Linked DNA regions of Homo sapiens. The protein of the gene in region 2 purifies or fractionates together with the protein of the main gene of each other region. This does not show direct contact. Each region holds a gene or a part of one and is shown on either strand. Other genes may lie near its edges.

Region 1 (7,025 bases), on a different chromosome or scaffold from region 2:
TTTATATACCCTTTCCTTATATTTGTGCTTTTGTTTTGTTTTAATGGAGAGAAAAATCAACAGTAGAAACCACTTACAAGATTACTTACTACTGTAGTGTGGTATAAAGTAAAAGATTTTACAAAATTAAAAACATAGTGATGGGAAAATATGGTTAGAGTCAAACAGTCTGATTTTTTTTTAAGGTTGCTGGTTACAGATCAATGTCATGAACAAACAGTAATTTTTTTTGGAGGAGCATGCTTGGAGATGAAGTATAGCAGTATAGCAGACATCCGATCATTGTAATCTGTTTTCAGCCCCCTTATTTATATTCTCTTCTGCCACCTTCTCATTTTCCCTCCCCCTTGGAGTTGATACCAGGAAGGACCTAGAATCAGCAATTTTCACTGACAGTCTCTATTATCTAACCCACGAAATTTCATCTTTCTACAAATGGGCCCCTCTTCCTGGCTGCACTTTCCTCCCCGCACTAACTTAACTCTTCTTCCTCAGTTATTAATTTCTCGCTGTTACCAAGTGATGACTTGCTGGATGGCAAAAGTGAACTCTTGGATTTAGTTTCAGCTGGAAGAATAAACCTGTAATTGTAGCCTGGCCTTTTCCTGGTGCGCTTCCCTGGGGGCCTGGCCTCACATTGGAGACGCTAAGCTTCCAGAAGCCAGACAGGCAAATCCCAATGGTGACCGATGCTCTCAGTTCTGGATTCCAAACTGGGGGGCAGCTGGTCTCTGCTCACCTGCCCAGCCAGAGTCTGCCTCCTGTGCTTGGTCCCCAACCGACTCAGACCAGGCTTCCTCACTATGAGCTTCAGAGGTTTTTGTGGGTTTTTTTTTTTTTTAACATTCTATCAACTTTTAAGTTCTGGGGTACATGTGCAGGATGTGCAGGTTTGTTACATAGGTAAACATGTGCCATGGTGGTTTGCTGCATGGATCAACCCATCACCCAGGTATTAAGCCGGAGCTGTGGAGTTTATACAGGAAGCCCAATACAGAGAATGTAACCAAGACTCATGCTTAGGAGATGGCTGCCCTCTCTCATCTGTCATCACTGGGGAGTCAAATGTTTCAAATGAATCAATTTCACAATAATTGAAATTAGCCCTTGAGGGACGCAATTCTTCCTTTAAACAATTCAAAAAGAAGCAAAGTAAAGCTATGTATACCACATGCAGATAGATGTAAAAACGGAACCTGATGAACTAATTCTGTACTCAGAAATTACTGACGGCATTTTACTTGAGAGACATGCGTGTCAGCCATTTCTGCCACGGGGGTTCTTCTGATGCTGTGATAGGCTGTGATGAGGAAGCCATTCCAAGTTGGTGTAGCAGGAGTTTGTGTGTCTTCTGGCTGGGCAGCCGGGGACCTCCGTGCTGTCGGAATGTGTTTTGTATATTGTCTGTCATGTCTCTTCCTAGTTTTTTCCAAAAGCCCTCTCTTTTAATATGACATTAATAAGACAATTAGAACTTAGTGTAAACTAACAGTAAATAGTACATATGTTTCAGTGCATGGACTTCGTATGTTCTTCTTAGTCTGCTCATGATGTCTTTTGTCAAAAAAACTTTCATTCTCATCTGCATTCTGGATCATTGAGGTTCCCAGAAAAGTGATTTCTGCGGGTTATATAAACAGTTATTTGCGACATCTCTTAATGTAACCTGGAAAGTTTCTAACCCAGACATTTAACTTTGTACTTCAACGCTGGTTTATTATCAAGCTTCGGAGGTTTTTCTGGGTTTTTTTTTTTTTTTGACATTTTATCAACTTTTATTTTAAGTTCTAGGGTACATGTGCAGGATGTGCAGGTCTGTGACATAGGTAAACATGCGCCATGGTGGTTTGCTATGAAAATACACATTTTAAGGGGAATGTGCTGGGGAGGGACATGCTGATGTGCATTGGTGAAAACTGAAGGGCGATGGTGAGATCCTCCTCAAAGTGAGCTCCTTGGCAATCAATCTTGCTGAGTGTTGCCACTGAAAGGAGAAAGGGAGTGCTCGGTGCGTCCTTACCCTTCAGGGGCAGGCGGACTGCTTGGGACTTTTATGTATATAAACCTATTGACTCTTCCCCCAAAGTCTATTGGGGTATGAGATTCCATTCACAGCCTCTATTTAACCATTTAACTTAGCCATTCCTCTGTGAATCCATGTTATTGCTGAAGATAATAATAATAATTTAGAAAAAAATCTCTAAGTGACTATAGTTTTATTTGACCAAAACTTGAATTTCGAGTCTGTCCTAGTTGATCTGTTGGTCATGCAGTCCTGGGACTCTGTTCCCCTCCGGGTCTCATCTATAAGATGTCGAAGGGGAGAGGGAAGCAGCAGAGAGGAAGGTGGACAAGATGGATAAGACGTCACCTAAGGTCCTTAGCATGTTGAAATTATATGATTTTGATCTAAACCTAATTGGTTACACTTCCTTTCCTGGTTAGATATTTATCAACAATGAATGGCACGAATCCAAGAGTGGGAAAAAGTTTGCTACATGTAACCCTTCAACTCGGGAGCAAATATGTGAAGTGGAAGAAGGAGATAAGGTAAATACTTAAAATAAATTTGCTCTAAGTAATTCAATTATGGATGACCAAAGGATAAGGAAACGGTTCGGCTTAGCTATAAGACAGAACTGGCCTATCCTGGGGGCAGGGCCTGGGCTAGCTGCGTGAATTGGCATGTGGTTCTCAGACGTGTGGCACAGAATGGCATCAATTACCGATGATCCTCTGCAGAGAATCATTCTCCCTTGATAGATGTTTCTCCTACTATGAGGATGACCTCAGCTATCCTCATCATATGGCTAAAGGAAAGGTTTTCTTTTTTCTTTTTTTTTTTTTTTTATCAATTATTTGGACCTGGAGGCATTAAAGAATCTTTCCAGAAAGCATTTCCCGCTGGTGTGTTTCACGAAATGAAGCTTTCTGGCAGAAGACACTTTAGAAAAAAATAGACACTTTGAAGGAAAAAAAATAGTTGCTACCCGGGTGATGCGGGGATAGTTAACAATGTAACCACCAGATTTCTTTTCTCCTAGAAATTTACATGAGCATGGAAAGCGGTAACCTTTATCACTCTATTTGCAAGTGCAAGGTCTATATAGTAATACAGAAGCTAAGGGACTTCCGAATGTGTCCTTTATACATTGCAAGGCCATCAAATCTATTCTGAATGTCAGTGCAGAGGTAAAGCCCTTCCACTGAGGGCAGGGAGATGTAAATGTTTCCTTAGCTGCTGGAGTGCTGGACTGATGTTCTTGGTCAGCAAACTGATGACGTTGGAAGTGGATGCAGTGAAGGGCGTGTGCAGAGTAGGCTTGGATTTTATCTTGCCCATGAGTTTTTGTGACAGACGTGCAAATGCACACTGGCCCCACCTATACAGACCCCCCTCTGTGTGGCACCTCATGACAGTTAGGCTCTGCTAACAAAGAAAGTGGCACAGAGGAGCTCATAGAAAAATGTGAGGGCATTGGGGGGAAGCCATGACATGGAATGGGGTTTCCACTAGGAGACTCCCAAGTGCCCCGTACAGGTGCTAGGAGGAGAACGAGACCCTTGCCCTGGGCCTTGATTTCTCCCTTGGTCTGAGTGACTGTTCTGAGCCAGAGGCCACCACACCCTCTGCAGCTGGAAAGGTCCTGGCCTCCACCCCAGAGCCTGGGAGAAGAAATTCAGTGTCCCACATCTCCCCTGCCAAGCTTCTGCTCACCCCCAAGCCAGCTCTGGACACACAGAGACTCGGTAGAGTCACTCCTGACTGGTGTCCCACATCCACTCCCTGCTGTACCTTCCTAGAAAGAGAGAGGCATGGAGGGGCCTTCGAGATGAATGTGGCCCATTTTCCTGAGAAAAAGAGACAGTGACACTACTCTAAATGGCCCTCACTTCTTTCCTTTTAGAAAGAAGGTTCCGTTGTGATTATTCTATCAGTGCACAAAAGATCCAGTTCTGCTCCCATGGGGTGGGTGAGGCTGAAGGGAGAAAAACGGCCTTCATGCTCCTCCCTGTCTGCGAACTGTTCCACGATGGTCAGTTCTGCAATCCAGAAAGGAAGGAATTTCCCCATTCTCACTCTTGGACCACAAGTTCCCAGCTGGGATCAAATGCCAGGCAGACACTTCCCACCTGATCTGTGAACAGCAGGCTCGTGTGCGTTCACACTGAGGCAGCCAGTGGAAAGTCCTTCCGTACTTGGGTCCCTGAGAAAAATACTCTTTAGGAAATATTTTTAAATGCTTTTTATAATCAGAAACAAACATTGGTATTTGGCCACTGTAGAAATATTAAGATGTAAAGAAGAAAAAAAATCACTTGAACGCTCCCAGCCATTCAAGTGATTGAAAAACATGCTGCTGCTTGCAGCCTGTCTGCCAGCGGGACAATCTGCTGTTCTCTATAACTGATGGCCGTGGTCCCAAACTGCAGTCACGTCAAAAGATGACACCCAAACTGCAGTCACCTCAAAAGATGACACCCAAACTGCAGTCACGTCAAAAGATGACACCCAAACTGCAGTCACCTCAAAAGATGACACCCAAACTGCAGTCACCTCAAAAGATGACACCGAAACTGCAGTCACTTCAAAAGATGACACCCAAACTGCAGTCACGTCAAAAGATGACACCCAAACTGCAGTCACCTCAAAAGATGACACCCAAACTTCAGTCACGTCAAAAGATGACACCCAAACTGCAGTCACGTCAAAAGATGACAGTCTCTCTCTGTTGTTCTGGTCGCTCAGCCCGACGTGGACAAGGCTGTGGAGGCTGCACAGGTTGCCTTCCAGAGGGGCTCGCCATGGCGCCGGCTGGATGCCCTGAGTCGTGGGCGGCTGCTGCACCAGCTGGCTGACCTGGTGGAGAGGGACCGCGCCACCTTGGCCGTGAGTACATGCACTTGGGGGCCGGTGGGGGATGAGCCAGCCTCACTGAGGGTCCTGTCCACCATGGGGTATGGGAAAAAAGATCACGGTCCTGGTTTTGTGTGGTCGTGGGTCTGTTCCATCCTCTGAGACACGGCTCTCTGGCAATACTTGCAGGTGTTAATGCCTCTAGACTGAATCCCTTTCATTTTGAAGTCAGACTTTTGTCCTCTGCAGCTCAGCTTCTTGACCAAGTTGTTGTCTATAGGCAGTTGAGCTACATCAGTGGTCTCAGACTTGGGGCACTCACAGATTGGTGACCATGAGCTGGGCCATATCCTGGTACCACCTGTGTGTTTATGTACTTAACTTTTTTCTTTTTTGTATAAACTTCCTTTTATTTATTTTATTTTATTTATTTTTTTGAGACAGAGTCTCCCTCTGTCACCCAGGCTGGAGTGCAGTGGCGCGATCTCGGCTCACTGCAGCCTCTGCCTCCCAGGTTAAAATGATTCTCTTGCCTCAGCCTCCTGAGTAGCTGGGACTACAGGTGCCTGCCACCATGCCCGGCTAATTTTTATATTTGTAACAGAGACAGGGTTTCATCATGTTGGCCAGGTCTTGAACTCCTGGTCTCGAACTCCTGGCCTCAGGTGATCTACCGGCCTTGGCCTCCCAAAGTGCTGGGATTACAGATGTGAGCCACTGCACCCAGCCTTAACTCCCTTTTAAACTTAAGTTTAATCTCATCCTAAGAAACAATATTCATGAAATCACAGGTTTGATGTGCTAATTTTATTTTTCTAATACTTACCAAAATAAATGCCACCACTTAACATAGAAAAAATTGTTCCCATGTGACCTAAAATCATTCCTCAGTCACCCCTGAACTGGCTAGTAGCGAGCATATGTGGAGCGGTGGTGAGGGCAGGATAGCCTGGTTATAGGAAACCTCAGAATAGGAAAGACCTGGGTTCAAATCCCCACTCTGCCACTTACTAGCTGTGTGACTTTGGACAAGTTGTGAAACCTCTCTGAGATTTATTTCTTCATGTAAAATGTCACCGATAATGATAACTCAGTGGTGTAAGAATGATCTATTTAAGATTCTAGGCAGAGTCCCTGGCAGGCAGTAAGCACTAAATAGATGACAGCTATCATTAATAATAGCAGTTATCATAATGAGGTCATGTGAAGACCCATTTTCTAACCTCACCTACATGCACTGCTGGCCAGTAATTTCTAGATACCCTAGGTGGGGATATTGATGGAGCATACCCCATGAGGCTGAGCTGCCAAGGCATTCATCAGTTGTAAGTCCATTTTTTAGCAGGATCCTCAGACCCTCCTCTGGTCATGAGGGAGTGATCAGAGGACATCTCAGGGCCACGTTGGGCCATGAGGTCCTTTGCATCCTGTCCTTGCCCATCTCAGCCTCTTGTTTTTAAAAGTTGTTCCAAACCTTGAGGCCCGGTTGTAGGGGAGGAGATCTCCTTTCTGGCCTTTGATTTGGAAAAATGGTTTTTCTGATGTCGGGAACAAGCAGTAGGGTAGCCACTGTTTAAAGGAGGGTGTCAGCCAGGACACGGAAATTGCTGTTGCCCCTGAATGTGTTTCTCAGGGTGGAGGAACTCTCAGGCCGTACTCTTGGGTGCATTTCCCTAAGGGTGCATCCACACAGAAACTCGAGCTCCCCTTCCTTCCTTCCCAGTCAGCCCGGCCAGTCCACATGTTCCCCGGGTGAGAGTAGCTCCCTCCCAGGGTAAGCGCTTCTCTCTGAGGAGCCTCTGGTTTCTTCCTGCAACGTAAGCCAGCGTCAACCCTCAAGCTGCCAAACTGGCTTTTTCAAAAACATTTCTGTTTTCACCCGGCATGAGCTCATCGGTCGGCAATGTCCGTGTGGACTAATAGCAGGCTAGAGAGGATGTGCCCTGGGCACCCCCCGCCCTGAACCCTGTCCTTAAGTGTCAGTATCATCTTAGGAGCAGAGGCTACAAAGCCACCTTCATCTTCAGGCTGCCCCATTGTCCTGGCACGACTGTGTTTTGATAGCAGACAGCTTTGGAGGATCTCAGAATGCAAACCCAGCAAATCACTTCTGCCACTGGCACCTCGCAGCCCACGAGAAATAAGATCCAGCTCTTTGCCACAACAT
Region 2 (7,025 bases):
CAGAGGAGTGGGCTTGCCACAGCCACCCTGGTGTCCTCCTCCCACCTGGGCATTGAGCAGTGCTGGTCCACCTGGTGGCCGGCCCAGGACCACAAGGCACACAGGCCCTACATGGCAGAGCTGGCCTGCCCCACTGTGGAGTGGCCCTAGAGTGAGAAGGGCAGATGGGCCCGGATTCCCTTACTTCAGTCCCTGCAATGCTCCCTGCTGCCCAGGGAGAGGCCCAGACCCCTGAGAGGGGTCTCTGCTCACTCTTCCAGCCCACCCTCCTCCACTTCACACTCTATGCTGGCAGACGGGAACTTTGTTTCCCAAAGGTTCCTCCCTTCTCCTCCATCTTCCTGACCTTCTTTTCCTCTACTACTGTCTTGGCTGCCTCCTGACATCTTTCAGGTCACAGCAGGCATGTAACCTCCTCCAGGAAGCCTTCCTTGATTCCCTCTGTCCTTGCCCATTCTTGTCTATCCCTTGAGAGTCAGAGGAGGCCTTGCCCAGTGGTGTATTTTCATGGGAGGGGGCCGATCAGTTTGTGGAATAATTGATGAAGAAGGCCCTGGTCTGGACTCGGGAGCCTGTGGCCGGGTCATCACAGCCGGGCCTGCGCTGGAGCCATGGCACGTCGGACGCAGGGTCGCCCAAGGCTGTCCCAGGGAAGGGCTCTGCATCCTGGTGCTCCTGCAGGCTGGGCCAAAGCTTCTCAGGTGGGGCTGCTGCCATCTGCTGGAGAGGACCTGAGGCCCCTCCTGGGAGGGGCTCCGGAGACACAGCGGCCCCTTGGTTCTGCAGCTTGGGCCGGCTGGGCTTTGAGCGTGCTCTCTGCTTCCTCTGCTCGCGCCGCAGGTACTACTTTTTGGTGTACAATGCATCAGTCCTCTACTGGCAGATGGTGAGGCCGTTCCTCAAGCCTGGATATCGTCACCATCTGATCCCCAGCCTTTCCCAAATCATAAACGTGCTGAGTCAGACTGAGGAGGAAGACAAGGAGTGGCGTGCTGAGCTGATGCTGTGAGTTGAGCTCGCCGTGCCCTCTGTGGCCTCCCGGTGGGCCGCCCTCTGGCTCTGAGGCCACCACCCCTTCTCCGGGGGGGGGACGGGAGTTCCACATCACTGGGGCACACTCCATGTGCGTTCTCTCCCACAGTCACAAGTTTCTGTGTGTCTTGTCCGAAGGTCGTTTCCAAAATCTGTAGATGACATTTGCCGTGCCCTGGTTATGAGGTTATGACAACAGAACAAGATACTGTGTTTAGACTCCCAGCAAAGCAGATATGATCCTGCCCCACGCAGCCTGGCTCACGGTTTTACAATCTTAGTTCTTAAAATGGTAACGCAGTAGACGTTTTAACAGCGTAAAACTAAGCAGAGTCAGCACATGCGGAGCCCAGGCAGCCCTGCGAGGAAGTTGGGGCAGCACAGGGCAGGCCGGCCTTGCTGGGTCTCAGCCCTGAGGGGTCACCGCACAGGCTGTCACCAATGCTTCGGTCACTGTGCCGGGCGGCGGAAAGGAAACGGGTCCGAGCCTCTCTGTGTCTGCGGCACTCTCTGTGCAGGCTGGGGACGGGTGGATGTCCCCATTGAGGATTCCAGCTGTGCCAACTCCAGAGCAGCTCCCCTCGGCACCAAGCCCACAGCCTGCAGGTGTTGGTTACTTGCCATATGGCCGTTTGGGGAACCTTTGAAGAATATCAATACAGATCTTTCATTTCAAAATGCCCCGGTGCTAGCGGTAACGAGCTGTCTGGCACCTGCTGGCCCTTCCTGGTGAGCCACACAGCCTGGTTCTGGCTGAAGAAGCTGACCCCAGGGTAGCTTTTAAACTTTGTGAAACACAAAATATGTAATGGTTTAATAACCTGGTTATTAGATAGGAGAAAACAGTTTCAACCAGGTTGACCAGTGGTGTGTTTCTATTATCCAGGGAACTTCTGGAGTGTTATCTGCAAGCCGGAAGAAAGGAGGAGGCTGCCAGGTTCTGCTCCACGGCAGCTCCGTTCATTAAGTCTCACGTGCCACAGAAATACCGGCAGATATTCTCTGTTATGGTAAATCAGCGTATTAGAAATAGAGACGTAAGAAGTAATTTTCTTAAAAGTCATTGTTCAGAAAACTGCGTAGAAATTACATAAGTTTGCTGAGAGATATAAAAATCTATATGCATACATACATGAACAAAATTACATAAGCATATTAAAAAGAAATAGCAGTTCATCCAATGCAAAGATGTATAGAACTGTGACATTTAGAAAACAAAACAGGGTCTTTTGCCTTTATCGTCGCTCTTTAAATATTTCCTTTGTAATAGCTTTGAATTTTTTTAAAGTTAATAGAAAATTCACAAAGATACAAGTAATTACTACAAGAATATGTACCAAAAGCATTCATTCATCAGCAGTCCATTTTGACATATGGGGAATCAGCTTAAGTTGTATCTGAAAAGCTAGATACAAAATTAATGAGAAAATAAAATCTAGACACAAAATCTGAACCTCTACCGAATTGTTTGAATCCAGATTAATAATCTGCTCCATTTTATGACAGGTTCGTCATGAATTAATGGACGAACTTCAGTTAAAGGAAGAAAAGAAAAATTCCATTAGCCTGTCAGTCACTTTCTATATTAATATGCTAAAGGCGTAAGTCGTTTTGGGAGGGAGAGCAAATACTGAGTTTCACAAGTGCTGGGCTTGGGAGAGCTCTGTCCCCTCCATGGGGGGAGGTCCTGTGTCCAGGGGCCTGTGAGTCTGGAGTTGCAGTGAGTGGGGCTGGAGAATAGGAGCCTGGGAGACCTCAGGGTGTGGGGATCCGAAGGCCACCCCAATTCCTGGCCCTGCCTCCCTCCCAGCACAGAGGAGAGGCCAGTGAGGCCACAGAAGGGAGAGGGCGGCTTTAAGCCAAGTGCAGAAAGAGCCTGTAGGAGGAGATCATGGTGTGTTTGGATGCCGAGGGGAGTGAGGAGATCATGGTGTGTTTGGATGCCAAGGGGAGTGAGGAGATCACAGTGTATTTGGGGGCAGAGGGGAGTGAGGAGATCACAGTGTATTTGGGGGCTGAGGGGAGTGAGGAGATCACAGTGTATTTGGGGGCCGAGGGGAGTGAGGAGATCACAGTGTGTTTGGGTGCCGAGGGGAGTGAGGAGATCACAGTGTGTTTGGATGCCGAGGGGAGTGAGGAGATCACAGTGTGTTTGGATGTGAGGGGAGTGAGGAGATCACAGTGTGTTTGGGTGCCGAGGGGAGTGAGGAGATCACAGTGTGTTTGGATGTGAGGGGAGTGAGGAGATCGCAGTGTGTTTGGGTGCCGAGGGGAGTGAGGAGATCACAGTGTGTTTGGATGTGAGGGGAGTGAGGAGATCGCAGTGGGTTTGGGTGCCGAGGGGAGTGAGGAGATCACAGTGTGTTTGGGGGCTGAGGGGAGTGAGGAGATCACAGTGTATTTGGGGGCCGGGGGGAGTGAGGATATCACAGTGTGTTTGGGTGCCGAGGGGAGTGAGGAGATCACAGTGTGTTTGGATGCCGAGGGGAGTGAGGAGATCACAGTGTGTTTGGATGTGAGGGGAGTGAGGAGATCACAGTGTGTTTGGGTGCCGAGGGGAGTGAGGAGATCACAGTGTGTTTGGATGTGAGGGGAGTGAGGAGATCGCAGTGTGTTTGGGTGCCGAGGGGAGTGAGGAGATCACAGTGTGTTTGGATGATGAGGGGAGTGAGGAGATCACGGTGGGTTTGGGTGCTGAGGGCTGTGAGGAGATCACAGTGTGTTTGGGTGCCGAGGGGAGTGAGGAGATCACAGTGTGTTTGGATGTGAGGGGAGTGAGGAGATCACAGTGTGTTTGGGTGCTGAGGGCTGTGAGGAGATCACAGTGTGTTTGGGTGCCGAGGGGAGTGAGGAGATCACAGTGTGTTTGGATGTGAGGGGAGTGAGGAGATCTCAGTGTGTTTGGGTGCTGAGGGGAGTGAGGAGATCACAGTGTGTTTGGGTGCCGAGGGGAGCGAGGAGATCACAGTGGGTTTGGGTGCTGAGGGGAATGAGAAGATCGCAGTGTGTTTGGGTGCCGAGGGGAGTGAGGAGATCACAGTGTGTTTGGGTGCTGAGGGGAGTGAGGAGATCACGGTGTGTTTGGGTGCTGAGGGGAGTGAGGAGATCGCAGTGTGTTTGGGTGCTGAGGGGAATGAGAAGATCTCAGTGTGTTTGGGTGCTGAGGGGAGTGAGGAGATCACAGTGTGTTTGGGTGCCAAGGGGAGTGAGGAGATCACAGTGGGTTTGGGTGCTGAGGGGAATGAGAAGATCGCAGTGTGTTTGGGTGCTCAGGGGAGTGAGGAGATCACAGTGGGTTTGGATACCAAGGGGAGTGAGGAGATCTGAGGTATTTGTGTCCTATGGGCAGCATCCCTGGGAGAGAGCAATGCTGGCCCAGGTCCTATCGCCGTTGAGCAGAGAGAGTGCCCCACATTTCCCGTGTTTGGCTCCTATGTGGGGTGCTGACTCTGGCGAGGGGTCTGGGCCCTCTGAGTGTTTCTATTCCAGCCTTGTAGGAAGGCCGGGCATCATGGAGGGAAGGAGGACCAGAAGGGGTGAAAAGTCATCTCAGGAATTTGAGGAAAGAAGGCAGGAGGGGTTATTTTCAGTCTCCTCTTCAGTGAGAAACACAATTTCATACACGCAGAGTTTCTCTTAGAAGAATTTGAATAAATCTGACAGGATCTTGTGCTGAATTACTCTCTGAATTATTTCTAGAAAAGCGGAGCAAAATGATTTACCAGGTGACATCAGTGTCATTCTGAGGAAGGCCTACAGACACTTAGGTCATTACAACCACCAGCGCTTTCCCTCTATCAGTGAAGAAAAGTAAGTGTTTGTATTTTTCCAATATCACATCTTCATAATCGTTGTACAAAATTTAGCAGGCACTGAAAAATGTGAAAAAATGTAAAACAAGCAACTAGAACCACCTTTGCAAAAGCCAGCCATTGTGGAGGTTTTAGTAAGGTCCTGTCTGGTCTTTTGTGGCCTGAGATTTGTACTGTCTTGCGAATACTTTCATACCCTACTTTTTAACATGAGTTTAGTTTGTAGGCATATGGATGGTTAGGTCACTGTGGCACCTCTCACGGTTCTGGTGGCTGCGTGGCGTTCCATGGGTGGGAAAACACAGGTTTCTCTGGAGCCTTTTTCAGGCTGGTTTGTTTGGATTCTGTGCTTTCTCGAATCCTCCAGGCACTGTTGAGAGTTTGGGATAAGTCCTGGGCTGGTATCCTGGAAGCAGGAAGCTGAGCCCGAGGCTTTCAGAAGCACATGGAAAGCACTGGCTGGTTTTGCCTTCGTGGGCACGGGGTGGGTGGGGGGGTTTGTCCCCTGCCCCTGGAGCGATTTTGTCACCTCCTTAGTAGCACTGTGTATATTTTTAAGAAAATGGGAAACAAGTAAAGCTTGTTGATATGGGAGGCTGAAATTATCTGTTTGGTTTTCTGGTGGCCATGGGAAACTAACAGAGAAGGTGTATTAGTTATCTGCAGCTGCGTAACAAGTACCCACAAACTTAGGAGCTTGAAACAACACAGGTCCATGACCTCACCGTGTCTGCGGTTCAGGTACCCGGGCACAGGTCCATGACCTCGCTGTGTCTGCGGGATGGGAACCTGGGCACAGATCCATGACCTCCCTGTGTCTGTGGGACGGGAACCTGGGCACAGCAGCAGCCACAGTGTTGACTGGTCTGGGGTCTTTTCTCGAGGCTGGACTGGGGAAGGGGTCCCCCAAGCTCACAGGGGTGTTGAGAGGACTCGGTTCCTGTGGGTTCAGGCCTCGGTCCTGGTGGGACAGCTTGCTTCATCAGTGCTAGCGAGGGGCGCCAGACGCCAGCACGTTCGTGGTCTCATCAGGGAGGTGGCACCTGCCCAACATTGAGGTCTCCGCTGCTCAGCTGCAGGCTCCTCGAGGGAGGGGCCCCAGGACCGCAGGGTGGCTGCTGGGCCACAGCCTGGGCCGCAGGGGCACAGGGCCAGCCTGCTGGTGGGTCTGTTTTTGGGAGGGGTATGAGTGCATGTGTACATGGGGATGTGTGTGGATATATTGTTCTGGAAGGAGTTTACGTCTTCCATCAGACCCTCCAGGTTGTTCTAACTGAAGTCCGGCCAAGCGTGGCCGTGGCCCTGGCCGAGCATCCCCTTCTGTGGCCAGGCGCTCCGACGAGAGGTCTTGGGACCAGTGTAAATAGCCCTGTTCCGAGGTCTGTCCACAGGCGGCATTCTCAGGCACTTTTACGGATTCTCTCTTCCCGACCTGCCCAGCAGGCCTGTGCGCTGGAGCTCAGGTAGGACGGAGAGGCCAGTGTTGTGATGCCAGGCCTGCCAGGACCTGAGAGGGCCCAACAGCAGAGCAGGGGGAGGAGGAGGTGGGCAGGGACGAGGGGCGGAGAAGCGTCCGCACCCCACCCCAAAGCAGCCTCCTGCCCACAGCTACCCAGGGATGCAGGGAGGATGGTCACACCACACTGAGGGCCGAGTTGAGTCGCTGCCAGCAGCCGCCAATTGTGTTCCCGGTAAGACTGTGATTACTCCCCGGGAAACAGCAGAAGACATGTAGACCTGCTCCCCAAGGACATTTGGCAATGTCTGGAGACACTGTGGGCGGCTGCTCTTCATCTAGCGGGCAGCTGCAGGGACACAATGGACAGGCTCCTCCTGGAAGAGAGGCGTCCCGGAGGGAAACCCTGGCCTAATCTCCACCGGAGGAGCGTGATCCTGATCCCTGCAGCTCAACAGGAAGCCTTAGAGTGGAGAGCTGAGAGCACCCGCTGTGCTCTTTCTTGAAGTTGTCTGGAGCACTGTGGGTCCTTGCATGTGGATACAAATTTTAGCCTCAGCCTGTCAGTTTCTGCAAAGACCCTGATTGGTGACTGCAGGTGCGGTTGGCGGCACGCCTACGGGCTTGTCGCATGGTAGGAAGGCCCAGGCTCTGTGTGGGGAGCGTGGGGAAGCCCAGGCTCTGTGTGGGGAGGAGGAAGCTGCAGGATCTATGTGGGGAGGAAG

Evidence for each region. Proteins that work in one complex are often made in the same cells at the same time.
Region 1: the proteins of CFAP46 (region 2) and ALDH1A3 purify together in Homo sapiens (co-immunoprecipitation; 2 studies listed by BioGRID and IntAct, with this or other methods). This does not show direct contact.

Annotation. Positions count from the first base shown.
Region 1 is NC_000015.10:100,882,822-100,889,846, forward strand, and holds part of ALDH1A3 (retinaldehyde dehydrogenase 3), read left to right. Parts: intron 1-2,445; coding exon 2,446-2,550; intron 2,551-4,750; coding exon 4,751-4,891; intron 4,892-7,025. UniProt on the Homo sapiens protein: Catalyzes the NAD-dependent oxidation of aldehyde substrates, such as all-trans-retinal and all-trans-13,14-dihydroretinal, to their corresponding carboxylic acids, all-trans-retinoate and all-trans-13,14-dihydroretinoate, respectively.
Region 2 is NC_000010.11:132,932,569-132,939,593, reverse strand, and holds part of CFAP46 (cilia- and flagella-associated protein 46), read left to right. Parts: intron 1-840; coding exon 841-1,005; intron 1,006-1,918; coding exon 1,919-2,042; intron 2,043-2,538; coding exon 2,539-2,633; intron 2,634-4,731; coding exon 4,732-4,842; intron 4,843-7,025. UniProt on the Homo sapiens protein: As part of the central apparatus of the cilium axoneme plays a role in cilium movement.